3 separate regions of the Homo sapiens genome follow, and regions 2 and 3 are each linked to region 1. The links come from fine-mapping of genetic effects on gene expression. A gene starts in region 1. Each other region holds a variant in brackets. All regions are shown on one strand. Distances are between the middles of the regions. Region 1 holds the start of LYSMD4 (LysM domain containing 4). Region 2 overlaps MEF2A (myocyte enhancer factor 2A). Region 3 overlaps ADAMTS17 (ADAM metallopeptidase with thrombospondin type 1 motif 17).

The links. PIP is the estimated chance that this variant, and not a neighbour inherited with it, causes the effect.
Region 2: its variant is the best candidate, but not a certain one, in a credible set for the expression of LYSMD4 in lymphoblastoid cells (GTEx, PIP 0.53).
Region 3: its variant is the best candidate, but not a certain one, in a credible set for the expression of LYSMD4 in pancreas (GTEx, PIP 0.78).

Annotation. Positions count from the first base shown.
Region 1 is chr15:99,731,391-99,735,604 of GRCh38, reverse strand. LYSMD4 (LysM domain containing 4) reads left to right here and starts at 2,168. Exons shown (of 3, transcript NM_001284417.2): 1 at 2,168-2,260; 2 at 3,598-3,887. The coding sequence starts at 3,606. RefSeq lists silencers at 1,839-2,568, 2,609-2,718.
Region 2 is chr15:99,711,336-99,715,549 of GRCh38, reverse strand. MEF2A (myocyte enhancer factor 2A) reads right to left here. Exons shown (of 12, transcript NM_001319206.4): 12 at 1-3,160. The coding sequence ends at 2,779. Among named protein-coding and RNA genes, the nearest start is that of LYSMD4, 20 kb to the left of the region's middle. The variant CT/T (reference allele first, on the strand shown) is at 2,204.
Region 3 is chr15:100,214,616-100,218,829 of GRCh38, reverse strand. All of the region lies in intron 7 of ADAMTS17 (ADAM metallopeptidase with thrombospondin type 1 motif 17), which reads left to right. Among named protein-coding and RNA genes, the nearest start is that of ADAMTS17, 130 kb to the left of the region's middle. The variant G/A (reference allele first, on the strand shown) is at 1,939.

The DNA.
Region 1 (4,214 bases):
ACCAATAGGAGATACCTATCTATCTACAGATACAGAGTCAGGTCCTCCAGAGAGACAGAACCGATAGGAGATATCTACCTATCTACAGATACAGAGTCAAGTCCTCCAGAGAGACAGAACTGATAGGAGCTATCTAATCTATCTATCTATCTATCTATCTATCTATCTATCTATCTATCTACCTACCTACCTACCAATAGGAGATATCTGTCTATCTATCTATATATCTATTTCTACCTATAGAGAGAGACACAAAGTGAGTGAGTGAGAGAGAGGAGATTAGACTTGGCTCACACAATTAAGGAGACTGAAAGTCCCGGGACAGGTGGGTCTGCAAGCTGGAGACCCTGGGATGCAGATAATATGGTTCAGTGCAGGTCCAAAAACATCAGAACCAGGGAAGCTGATGATGTCACTCTCATTCCAAGGCCAGAGTCTTGAGAACCCTGGGGGTTAGGGGAGGGTAAGTCCTGGAGTCCAGACCATTTTGGGCTTTGTCCACGAAGATTAACAATTTGACTTTTAGTTTAAGTGGGTGTATTAGTCCGTTTTCATCCTGCTGATAAACACATACCCGAGACTGGGCAAAAGAAAGAGGTTTAATGGACTCACAGTTCCACCTGGCTGGGGAGGCCTCACAATAATGGCTGAAGGTGAAAGGTGCATCTCACATGGCAGCAGATAGAAGAAAAGAACTTGTGCAGGGCAACTTCCCTTTATAAAACCATCAAATCTAGTGAGACTCATTCGCTATCTGGAGAACAGCACAGAAAACACCTGCTCCCATGATTCAATCACCTCCCACCAGGTCCCTCCCACAACAGGTGGAAACTGTGGGAGCTACAATTCAAGATGAGTTTTGGGTGTGGACACAGTCAAATCCTATTAGTGGGAAAAGGTTTGTGAGATCTTGTTTTAATGTTTGCTTTGTTGTTTAATCTGATTGCAAGTGAGGGTTAAAAACATTTTCAACCTGTTGACCATTTGCATTGTTTGCTGAATTATCTGCTCCTGTCTCTCTGAGGTCTCCCTCAGACCTGCTGAGGTCTTAGCATCTTTCCTATTCATATGAAGTCTCTCTCAGCGAAGGATTTTAATCCTTTGTTGTGTTCAGTTTATTTTCCCTAGGTTATCTGCTTTTTAATTTTGGTTTTCCTTTTTAAGTAGAAGCTCTGAACTTTGTGCCTTAGTGTGTGAGGTTTTTGTTTTTGTTTTTTTTTGAGATGGAGTCTCCCTCTGTTGCCCAGGCTGGAGTGCAGTGGCACGATCTCGGCTCACTGCAACCTCCGCCTCCGGGTTCAAGCAATCCTCTGTCTCAGCCTCCTGAGTAGCTGGGATTACAGGCGCCCGCCACCATGCCCGGCTAACTTTTTTATTTTTTTTTATTTTTATTTTTTTAGTAGAGACGGGGTTTCACCATCTTGGCCAGGCTGGTCTCGAACTCCTGACCTCGTGATCCACCAGCCTCGGCCTCCCAAAGTGCTGGGATTACGGGCGTGAGCCACCGCGCCCGGCCAGTGTGTGAGAATTCTTCCACCACTTTTCATCTTAAGAAATCCTCGGCCACCTGACATTTGATAAACACGACTTAAGTTTTCTTGGTCCCTGTTGTCCGCATCCATGTTTTACACTCGTGGATTTCTGTTTTCTTCTCGGGGTGGGGCAATGCCTCCCCTGGTGCGGCCCTCAAAGGCCCAGGAGCGCAGATCCCGCCGCAGAAAGACCCCTCGCCCATCTGCGCCCAGCCCTTCCCCGCAGGAGGGCTCAGGGGACCCCACGCTACTGGAATCCACCCCGAGTCACAGCTACAGATCATTACCCACAAGTGGGGTCAAAGGCCTCTTTACGGGCGAGAAAGCTGCGGCTCAGCAGAAAGCCAAGCACTTTGGGAGGGAGGAGCTGAGGTGCCTTATTACTCCGAACAGACGCGAAAACAAGCCAGGGCCCGCGCGGGTAGACCTGGTAGGCGGGTGGGCGGGGCGAGGGCCACTTCCGGGGTGTGGAACCCTGTCGAGCCCCGCCCCGAGCCCCGCCCCGAGCCCCGCCCCGGGCCCTGTGGTCCCGGGATGAGCTCTCCGCGCAGCCAGGCTCGCTCCAGTGCCCGCCCAGCGCTGACTTCATTGGCTGCCTCCCCAGTCCCGCCCCCAGGGGGGCCCTGCTGATGTTCGTAGCCAATCCGCAGGCGCGGTGGCAGCTGCGGGTCGCGGGTCGCGGGTCGCGAGTCGCCGGTCGCCGGTCGCGGCGGAGCCTGGGCGCTGAGGTACCGGGGCCTGGACGAGGGGGCCGCGGTCTGGCTAGGGAGCCGCGCGGGCTCATGGCGGTACGGCGACCTGGCCTCGCTCGAGGGTTCGCGGGCGGGCCGCCCCTCCCCGGGCTCCTAGGGGGACGCTCCAGCTGGAGGGGCGGTGACCGCGACTGTCGTGGGCTGGCCCCAGGTGGCTAGGGTTGGGGGTCAGAGGTCAGAGGTTCTGCCCTCTGGAATGTTAGGGCCCCGCCCGTGGAGCCGTGGAGCCCTGGGGCCGGGCCGCTCCCCATTTTCCTGTCAGCTCTTGTTGAGGTGCCCCATCTTTTCGCAGAAGGGACTTGGAGGGAAGCGGGCCTGGAGCTGCTGCCGCCGCCCCTGAGCTCGGACGCGAAGGCTGGCCCCGTCCCCGGGCTGCCGCCGTGGTCCTGCAGGTGACCCTCAACCCCCCGAGGACCGCCGGCCGCCTCCCGCCTCCGGGCAGGCTCAGGAGCGCGCGGAGCGGGGTGTGGGCCTGTGACCCTCGAAGGCGTGGGCGGGGAGTAGGGGGTCGAGCTGGGGCCGCAGGCTGTCCCCGTACGGGCTGCTCCCCTGTGGCTCCGAAGCCACCTTTTTCTGAAGTTGTCAGCCCGCGTGTTTGAGATTTCGTTTCTGGAATCTCACGCGAACAATCTGGAGAGAGGAACAGGGGTCTTGCGGCTTTGGCTGTTGACTCAAGGGGAAAATAAAAACCAGACAATGGGGATGTAATGAATGCAAAGTGACCCGTGAGCAAACTGGACGCTTTTCTCCGGCTGACAGGCATGAGTTCTCCCCGTAGCTTGCCCCACATACTGTGAGTTAAACTGTGTCAAAGTAAGAGCAGTTTAGCCCCACAGTTCTGAGCAAGAGTCCTTAGCGCTGACCTTCTTAGTGAAGATACTTTGCAATGTGTAAAATATTGAATACAAAATTATTGTGCAAAGCTTCTGAGTTGAAGATTCTGAGTGCGCGGAGGCTGGCGGCAGCCCTTACTTGCCATTGCAAGGATCTCAACTTACTACTCTGAGAGCAAAAGTAGTTGTTTCTTTACAGATGTGGGTTTAGGGGAGACAGCTATGGATGAGGAACAGGGGCGGGGTTCGTTTTCTGCACAAAACGTATGCGATTAGAAAAAACAAAGGGTTTTTATTCTGCCTATCTTCTTCCATCTCAGCCAGCATAAGCACATTCTTTTTTTTCTGTTGATGATGTATGCTGAGTATTTGCAGCGATTAGGAAAAGGAATACTCTCTAACAAGACACTTCTCTTTAAACGAGGCGGTGGAGGGATGATTATGTCTTCTGTGGAATTAACCCTCCGGCTTGATTTTCAGTGAAGAAAATGAGGCACGAGGAATTGTTAACCAAGACCTTCCAAGGCCCAGCTGTTGTGTGTGGGACTCCGACCAGCCACGTATACATGTTTAAGAATGGCAGTGGGGACTCGGGGGACTCTTCTGAAGAAGAGTCTCACCGTGTGGTTTTGCGGCCCCGGGGCAAGGAGCGCCACAAGAGCGGTGTCCACCAGCCTCCCCAGGCGGGAGCAGGTGACGTGGTGCTGCTGCAGCGGGAGCTGGCCCAGGAGGACAGCCTCAACAAGCTGGCGCTGCAGTATGGCTGCAAAGTAAGACACCCCTCAGGGGCCCTGCCCCGCTCCGTTTCAAGGAACACGGGGAACTCACTGCAGGGTGGGTGCCCTTGCCGCCCTTCTTAACCCTGCCAGGCCGTCAGGAGAGGCCTGCTGTAGCAGCCAAGGACTCCCCTATTTAGCCAGAATTGGAATGCAGGTGGGAGTACCTTTAGTTCCCAACCCTGGCCCCCAAAGAGGGAGGGTTAGCGCATTTCTTTCTCTGCAGGGAACTTCTCCTTTTCCTGTTTTCTCCACACTGAAATTCTGAAACCTTTTTTCTTCTTTCGAGCACATTTTATTTTAGACCTAATGGGGCTGGAG
Region 2 (4,214 bases), 20 kb after region 1:
GGTGAGAGATGTCTGTCAAGTCCATATGCTCCATGCCACACTGGACGTATGGGAAAAAGGTTAACAGTCAAATATTCAGTTCCTGAAATGGAATACATTGTTACTTGGTCAGTGTAATTTAAATACAAACTCCGAGCCTTGAGTAGTAGTATTTTAGAAAACAGTAGTTGTACTGATTATAAACCTGCATAGAAAGAAAGACTATTGAGATACAGTCAGAAAAGCCATCTCATAAGGCACACAAGAAAATAGACAGTAAATGTGAATGTGTTAACTCCTATTCCAATGTACAGCAGAAGTTCATGAACATGCATAAATAATAACGAAGGAATCACTTAACACTTTCAAAGCTATAAATGGTTTACAAAGTGGTAAGGATTATTTTGGAACTTCAGTGTTGGGAGACTGTCTTGTTTGGATTAGGTGTGGCCTTATGAAGAAATGTGCCTGTAAGTAGTTCAGTAAAGTAAGTACATTTTTAAAGAAAAATCCTTTCTGAATAAGAGCCTAATGTCTATACTGAAGAGAGGAGACAGCATGTCATCCTCCTTTTTTTGGCCTCTCTCAAAAGTTACTGCCCAAACTGCCATGAGAACAGAACCTCCAGTTTGCAGCCTGTGGTGCGCAGGTCTCTCCTGCACTGATCATACCTATGTGTCAGTCAGGAAATCTGGCTGATGACTTGTCACAAACAGCAGATGAGGAAAATGTCAAAAGGAACGTAATTTGGGGGGGGGGTGGGGGGGGGGGAACAAAATGTACATAGAAATTGTAGGTAGCTGCTCAATATCATTTAAAATATAAAATAGCAATTTTTAAACCCTTGAGTTTTTTAGGAAAAGGAGTATTTAAAAATCTACAATGAAAGATATACAGGACTTTGAATTTTGCTCATGGCACAAGCCCAGTAAGTGGATGAACTTGCTATCATCCATTAGTTGTCTTCCTGAAAGAATAAGGCCTTGTTCAAAATCCAAGCTGAGGGTGGCACTAATTCCAATTAGAATGGCAAGAGTCATGCCAAGGACCAGCACCCTAAGAGTGTTTCTCCCCGCATACCAAAGCATCACTGCAATGTGCAGAAGAGCTGATAACGGTAGGATTTTGTAACCAGCTGCATCGTTCTGTTTTCAGAGGGTCAAGGAAAAAAGATCCCTTTCCCCATGATTATTTTCCCCTAATCATTTACCACTTATAAAACCTTTGTGCTCATCTACTATTTTGCCATTTTCTCTAATATTAATTAAATTAGGTCAGCTTTTTCTACTACATTTTTTCCTCACAAAAGGCAAGTTTTAAATAATGCCTTACAAAATCTGTTACAACACATTTTATACTTATGCAGGATGAACTTAACACCAATTTTTTTTGCCACTTTGCTATTTATGTACACATACAAAATATATAATGATGCTCAACCCATACAGCACAAAGATTACAATGTAACATCACACATTCACCACCAGTGAGGGGAGAAACCCCTTTATACAATCCTCTGAAAAAACTGGGCTAATAATTAAAATCCAAAGTACAGTATATTTAACAAAATAGTAAATATTAAACAGTGAATACTTAATAAAGGACCTCGCCTTTTCCCCCCAGATTGGCGGCAATCCACAAAAATATACTTTTTAATCTGGTGACCATACAATACATAGGTACTTACATCAAAGGTGATAATATATTTAAGATGCTATATACACAAAGAGTTTGGCTCAACTTTTAATTTACATTTAGAATAAGTGTTCATGGCTTTTTTTTTCCAAGGTTCTGCTTGCAAGATATTTTTGTTTTCCCCTCTTAAAATAAAACTAAAGAGTTAAACCAAGATAAAGCTATTCTCTAAAAAAAAGTTACAACATATAGCTTTGGCTTATATAAATAATTCATAGCAGAATGTGTTCAAAAGTAGTGAATATAATTTTATATATAGTCATCAATTCATAAGGGTGTTTTCTTTCATATAAAATATACATGAGCTAAAATCAGTTTCTTTAATTTTTAAGATATGAATGTAAAAAGAAACTTCTGACATATTCCAATTATAACTTAATATATTAATTTTACTTTGTTAATGCTCTATATTTCTAGGCTAGTATTTTCTGAATATCTCATGCGTGTTTTCTATTCTCTTTCTTTATTAGCTAAAGATCACTTCTTGACCCAATACATTTTTGCACGTGCAAAACAGTTATGTGTGGGG[CT/T]TTTTTGTTTTGTTTGTTTTTAATATCAACAGCCCTTTCCCATGCACCCCTTTGCAACAGACACCCATGCCAGGTTGGAAAATATAAATGACATTTTATGTACAGTATTGCTTTCTTGGTTCCTGCTTTTCTACTGCTCTGTTCTACAAAGCATTTTCTCTTAAGTAACTACAGTCACTGCACAGTTAAATAAAACAAGTAGGGGGCCCTCTAGGTTTCTGCAAGCTAGTGTGGGAGAATTATATATGGGTACACGTTTCTCTGCAAAAACTGGTTATCTTTACGAAACAAGTAGTCCAAGGAAGTGCCAGACTTGTCTGTGCCTACAGGGTGCTTTGTCTGCCATGGGACACACATCTGCAGACCTACAAGGAGTTTGCAGGTAAGTGCCTGATTCTGTGTATGTAACACACACCCACACATACACACTCACACCCACATACATATATATGTAAAGGGATATATATATGTATGTACATATAAATATATTTAACTCATGTCCTTATTTACCGATTTAGATATGTAGGGCAGGTCACTGCAGTAACACAAAAGTACAAACATCAGCTTGGAAGCCTTAGGTCACCCACGCGTCCATCCTCATTCGCTTTACAGAAGGGCTTTCTCTGTCCTCAGTGTTTGGGGGTCGGCCAAGCACAATTGGAGAATGGAAGTCGCCCCGTGGATCCTCCCGATCACTGCCATCATAGGAGCTACTAGAGCTGCTCAGACTGTCCACAGGGGAGCGCCCCATTTCCTGTCGGGGCTGGGGCTGCGGGGGTTGTGGCTGGGGCTGCGGTGGTGGCGGCGGCTGCTGCTGCTGCTGCTGCTGCTGCTGCTGCTGGAAGCCCGATGGGGTCATACGATCCCGAGGAGGTGAAATCGGTTCGGACTTGATGCTGATGTTTTGGTTGGTATTAATGGATAAATTGGAACCCTGAGATAACTGCCCTCCAGCACTGAAGGAAAAAAAAGAGAGAGGTCAGATGGCTTGCAAGTACCTCTGCAAAACTGGGATGATACAGTAGAGACACTGCCTGATGGAAAAGGGCCCAGAGTCTGAAATCTTATCAGAGTTCCCCAAGACTGGTTTGGGTCGTTTCCTTCAGTGCTTGGCACAAAAGGAAATCCCATCTTCCTAGGAGGAAAGAAAACAGTACCGTTGAGCCCTTACGTTACTTGGTTCTGTTACCCACAACGTTGGTACTTTTGCAGCTAAAGTATACAAAACAATGTCAGTGTCTTAATGCTGTGCAGGGACCAGAAAGACAGAGGAACAGCAGCCTCATCTGCTCACCGCCTCTTCTTCCTCAGCATCTGCTCCCCATCTGCTCTGGCCCTGTGACAGGGCACAACATCGCTCATCCTCGCAACACCTCTAAGGTGCAAGTCGCACCATCCCCATTTTCCAGATGAGGAAATGAGGGGCTGGCTGAGAGCAGTAGAGGAGGACGCAAACAGGCTGTTCCCCGGGCCTGGGCTCTGAGCCCTTTCCACTTGCTTTTCCAGGACTATTTTTAGTGCATTCATTTAGGATGCTCAGGACAGGCCTGAGGGCCAAATCCTGTGTAGGCAAATTTCCCTGAGATACTCTGCTGCTTTTTCCATGACATAATTCCTAAGAAGACCACTGACAACAATCCTCACTGTGCAGTTACTTCAGAATGGATGAGGGAAAGGGACTGCTGAGCTCAGGCTCTCTGGGGACTTCCTGGGCAGAGGCTAGGGGCCTGGGGTATTCCTACTGCCCAGAGCACAGGCAAGGCAGCCAGTCTTCATGGAGGCCAGCTGGGTCTGCTATGTTGTCCCCTCTCTTGGGACACTCTCCTCCAACTGCTCCATGGGTCTGCTGTCATCCTGGTTCCACAAAAGCCCTGTTCTTTCTCCCGGCTGTCAGGGATGTCTGGCCTCATCTGGGCGCCACTGTAAATCCTCTTTGCTTATATCCTTACACCCTGCCCATACGGAACATTCTCTTTGTGAATGAGGTTTGGTGTGTGCATTGGGCTGGGA
Region 3 (4,214 bases), 480 kb before region 1:
GTATTTGAGTTCTTCCCATTTTTTTGATATTGTGAACAATGTTTCCATAAATATTCATGTTTGAGTTTTTATGGGGACACGTTTTCAGTTCTTTCGTATATGTGACTAGGAATGGAATTGCTTGAATCAGATGGTAATTCTAGGTTGAATATTTTGAGACACTGCCAAACGCTTTTCCTATGGGGAGTGTCTACACCGTTTTACATTCCTGTCAGCAGTGTAGGAAGATTCTGTTTTCTCTGCATTCTTGCCAACACCCATCTTTTTGATTATAGTCATTCTGGTGGGTGTGAAGTAGTATCTTATTGTGGTTTTGATTTGCCTTTCTCTAATGGCTGATGTTGAACATATTTTCCCATGCTTATTGACCACACATATTTCTGCTTTGGAAAAATGTCTATTTAGATCATTTGCCCATTCAAAAATTGTGTTTGGTTTTTATTGAGTTGGAATAATTTTTTTTGCTGAGAGGTGGTGTTGGATTCTTCCCAAGAATTTTATTTTTAAATGACAAACCATAATTGTATGTATTTATGGGGTGCAGTATGTTTCAGTACATGTTACATTGTGGAATGATCAAATCAGGCTAGTTAGCATATCTGTCATCTCAAATATTTATAATTTCCTTGTGGTGAGAAAATTTAAAATCGTCTGTTTGGCCGAGTGCAGTGGCTCACGCCTGCAGTCCCAGCCCTTTGGGAGGCTGAGGTGGGCAGATCACTTGAGCCCAGGAGTTTGAGACTAGCCTGGGCAACATGGTGAAACCCTGTATCTACAGAAAATTAGCTGGGCATGGTGGTGTGCACCTGTAGTCCCAGCCACTTGGGAGGCTGAGGTGGGAGGATGCCCTGAGCCCGGGAGGTCAAGGCGGCAGTGAGCACTGATTGTAGCACTGCAGTCCAGCACTTCACAGTGAGACCCTGTTAATCAGTCAATCATTCAGTCATTCCTTTTTTCCTTCCTCTTTTAGCTGTTTTGAAATATATGGTGTACAGACTTGTAAGGATTCTTCATGTATTCTGGGTAAAAGTCACTTACCAGATAGATGATTGGCAAATATCATTTCCCACTGTGGGAACCTTTTCACTTTCTTGATGGTATCTTCCGAAGCATAAAAAATTTCAACTTTGATGTAGTCATTTTTTATCACTTGTACTTTTGGTATCATACCTATGAAATCATTGCCTAACCCAGGATCACAAATATTTACTTTTTTGTTTTGTTTGTTTTTGAGAAGAGTCTTGCTCTGACGCCCCAGGCTGGAGTGCAATGGCATGATCTCGGCTCACTGCAGCCTCCGCCTCCCGGATTCAAGCGATTCTCCTGCCTCAGCCTCCCGAGTAGCTGGGAATATAGGCACCCACCACCACGCCCACCTAATTTTTTGTATTTTTAGTAGAGACAGGGTTTTCCCGTGTTGGCCAGGCTGGTCTTGAACTCCTGGACCTCAGGTGGTCCGCCTGCCTTGTCCTCCCAAACTGCTTCTAAGAGTTTTATATTTTCAGTCTTACGTTTAGGTCTGTGATCCCCTCTGAGTTAATTTTTGTGTATGATGCGAAGTAGGGGTCTAAATTCATTTTCTTGCATATGGATATCCAGTTGTCCTAGTACCACTAATTGAAAAGACTGTTCCTTGCCTGCCTTGTCCGAGATGACATTTTGGTGGGAAACACAGGTATTTTATATTGTGGAACATGAAGTCTCCTGTTTATTTTTCCTATCAGAAAGATGTTGCTGAAACACAAACCCATGTCTCATGTCCCTGTTGTCTAGTTATAAATTTAATATCAACTCTTCCTCTTCAAAACAGCATTTTCAGCTTCAGGAAACTAATTTTATTATTTTTAGACTTGTGTTTGATTAAATACATGGGAAGTCTAGAGCAGGAAGGCACCCTGACCTCACAAAACAGAAGAACATGTGATGTTTCCAAGAAGT[G/A]CATTCAATGTGTGTTTCGAATCTAATCTTAGTAAAATATTGTTACTTAATTATTATGAATTCACCTATCTCAAAATCTGAAAAAGTTTTGTGAAGAGTTCTCTTTCCCCTTGATGAGCAGGGGTGAATTGTTAGGTGGGCCTGGAACGTCAGGACCTAACCAAGGTGGGCGCCATAGGCCTCTGGATAAAGCATCCCGGTAGCTTGGTAGACAGCAGACTGTGTCAGGATAGGTGTCAGCATCGGGAAAAAGGGTTCCGTGAGCTTGTCTTTAAAGGCAGTCAGCGCAAAATCCAGGTCAGGCAAGGAGAGCAAAGGTAAGGAGGCACAGTGCGGTTCCAGACGTTGTAATACGCTGGTATCTTGTCGTGGCCAACCTTGTCCTGGCCCCCAGCGCAGATAAAGAGAGTGGCCTCTGATGCCGGTGAAGGTGGTGTTTTCCCAGTCCCCAGCTCTTTGCTGTTCTTCAGCTTTCCAAATGTCATGTTGATAAAAGCATTTAGAGGTTCACAGCCTCTACGCTGGCAACTAAACTGCCGATCATTGTGAAATTGTCCTGTGCCTTTTGGCACAGAGTTTTGGCTTGAGAAATACTTTCTGTTAAACTTTAAGAAAAAATTTGGACTTGGTCAAACTAATTGCAGTGTTAGATAATATTTGTTCAGGGTTTACTCTGAACATTGCTTCTTCTCTCATTATTCATTTAATCCTCAATTCCACGAGGTAGGTGTTCATCTCATCTTACAAAAGGGGGCACAAGGCTTGGGGAGATGAAACAATTGCCATAGTCACCCAGGTGGGAAGTGGCAGAGGGAGACTCAAATGCAGACCCCAGTCCAGAGCCTGCCCTTCTCACCCCGCTCAGACTCTGCTGGCACAAAGAGAAATCTCCCTGTGGCTTACATTCCCAAGAATGGCCAAGGGAGCTGAGGATATGTTAGGAACAGGGACTCCCGAGTCAGCTCTGCTCTTGTAAGCACAGTCTTGGTTCTCCTGGGGAGAGTCAGCGACACCTAAACTCTGAGTTTGAGTTATTCATCCTCAGGCAAATGGTGTCTTGGAGGTCGCTGGCCATCCTGCCAGCAGCAGGATGTTTTGATACTTGTGTCTTCGAGCGGGAGAAGGGAAATACACTAGCAGCTCCCTTTGCAGAGGCCCATTTGCCCTTACCTACAGAGCAGCCCAGGGGCCTTGTGCATCATCCTTACACCTGGGGAGGGACCAAGAAGGGCACTCCAGGGTCTGCTGACTGAGTCACTTAGGCCAGGCCAGCCCTAGACTTCCCTGACTATCAGCCAGAAGGCCAACTTGTTACCCAAGGGCAGCAGTGACCAGGGCAGGTATCTTAGGGGCTGTCAACTTCTCTGTTGGCCATGCAAAGACTCCACGTGGAGTTGTCTATAGTGCACAAGCTCAGATAATGAAGGAGAATCGGTCATACTGAAATCAAGGCTAGCAGTGAGGTTCCTTCTGCCATGACAATGGGACAGTTACAAGGCTGGAGCTATCAGAAGAACGCCAGACATTCGGGCCCTAATCCATCTGGTAGATGTTCCAGACGAGATCCAGACATGAAATCTAACAAAGAGTCCAGGAAAATCGTCAGCTCATCTCACAAGCAGCTGATCTTCCACATCAACATCTTGCTTCACTTTGGGAAGTTTGCTTCACCAACTTCTGGTTTAATTGCTGGCCTCGCCAGTCTGTCTGATTTAGTATTGCTACTGCGTTCCAAACGCAGGCATGAGGGCTGCCTCTGGCTGTAGCCGGAACCTGCCAGGCACAGTGCAGGGGTCAGGAAACAGCAGTCCACATTCTTGGGTTGTTATGTTTTTGGATGGGAGATTCTGTATTGAGAGGGTTGGAATTAGTCTTTATTTCATGATACCAAATGGAGGTGTAAAAGATCTATGGGACAATAGAGCAGAATGGGCAGTTGTTTCCTCCTAAAAGAGAGTTGTCTCTGCAGGGCAGTAATGAACTTGTCACGGGACAGTGCAACAGCAAAGCTTTACTCTTTCATGGTGTCGTTGTGCTCATAGTGATAATCGAGGACCGTCTCAGGAAGTGTGCCGTGTCGCTTGTGCGTATTTGGAATTGGGATGACTAGCTAAGGAACTAATACAGATACCATTAAGAAATGATTTCAGCCTCCTGCGTGGATGGTGGGCCGAGCAAGTGAACCTAGAACATTCTGTGATTTCCAGTGCCCGGAAGAATAGAGCATGGCCAGGTCAGCAGTACCATTAAGAAGTGGCCAATAAAAGTGCGTATGC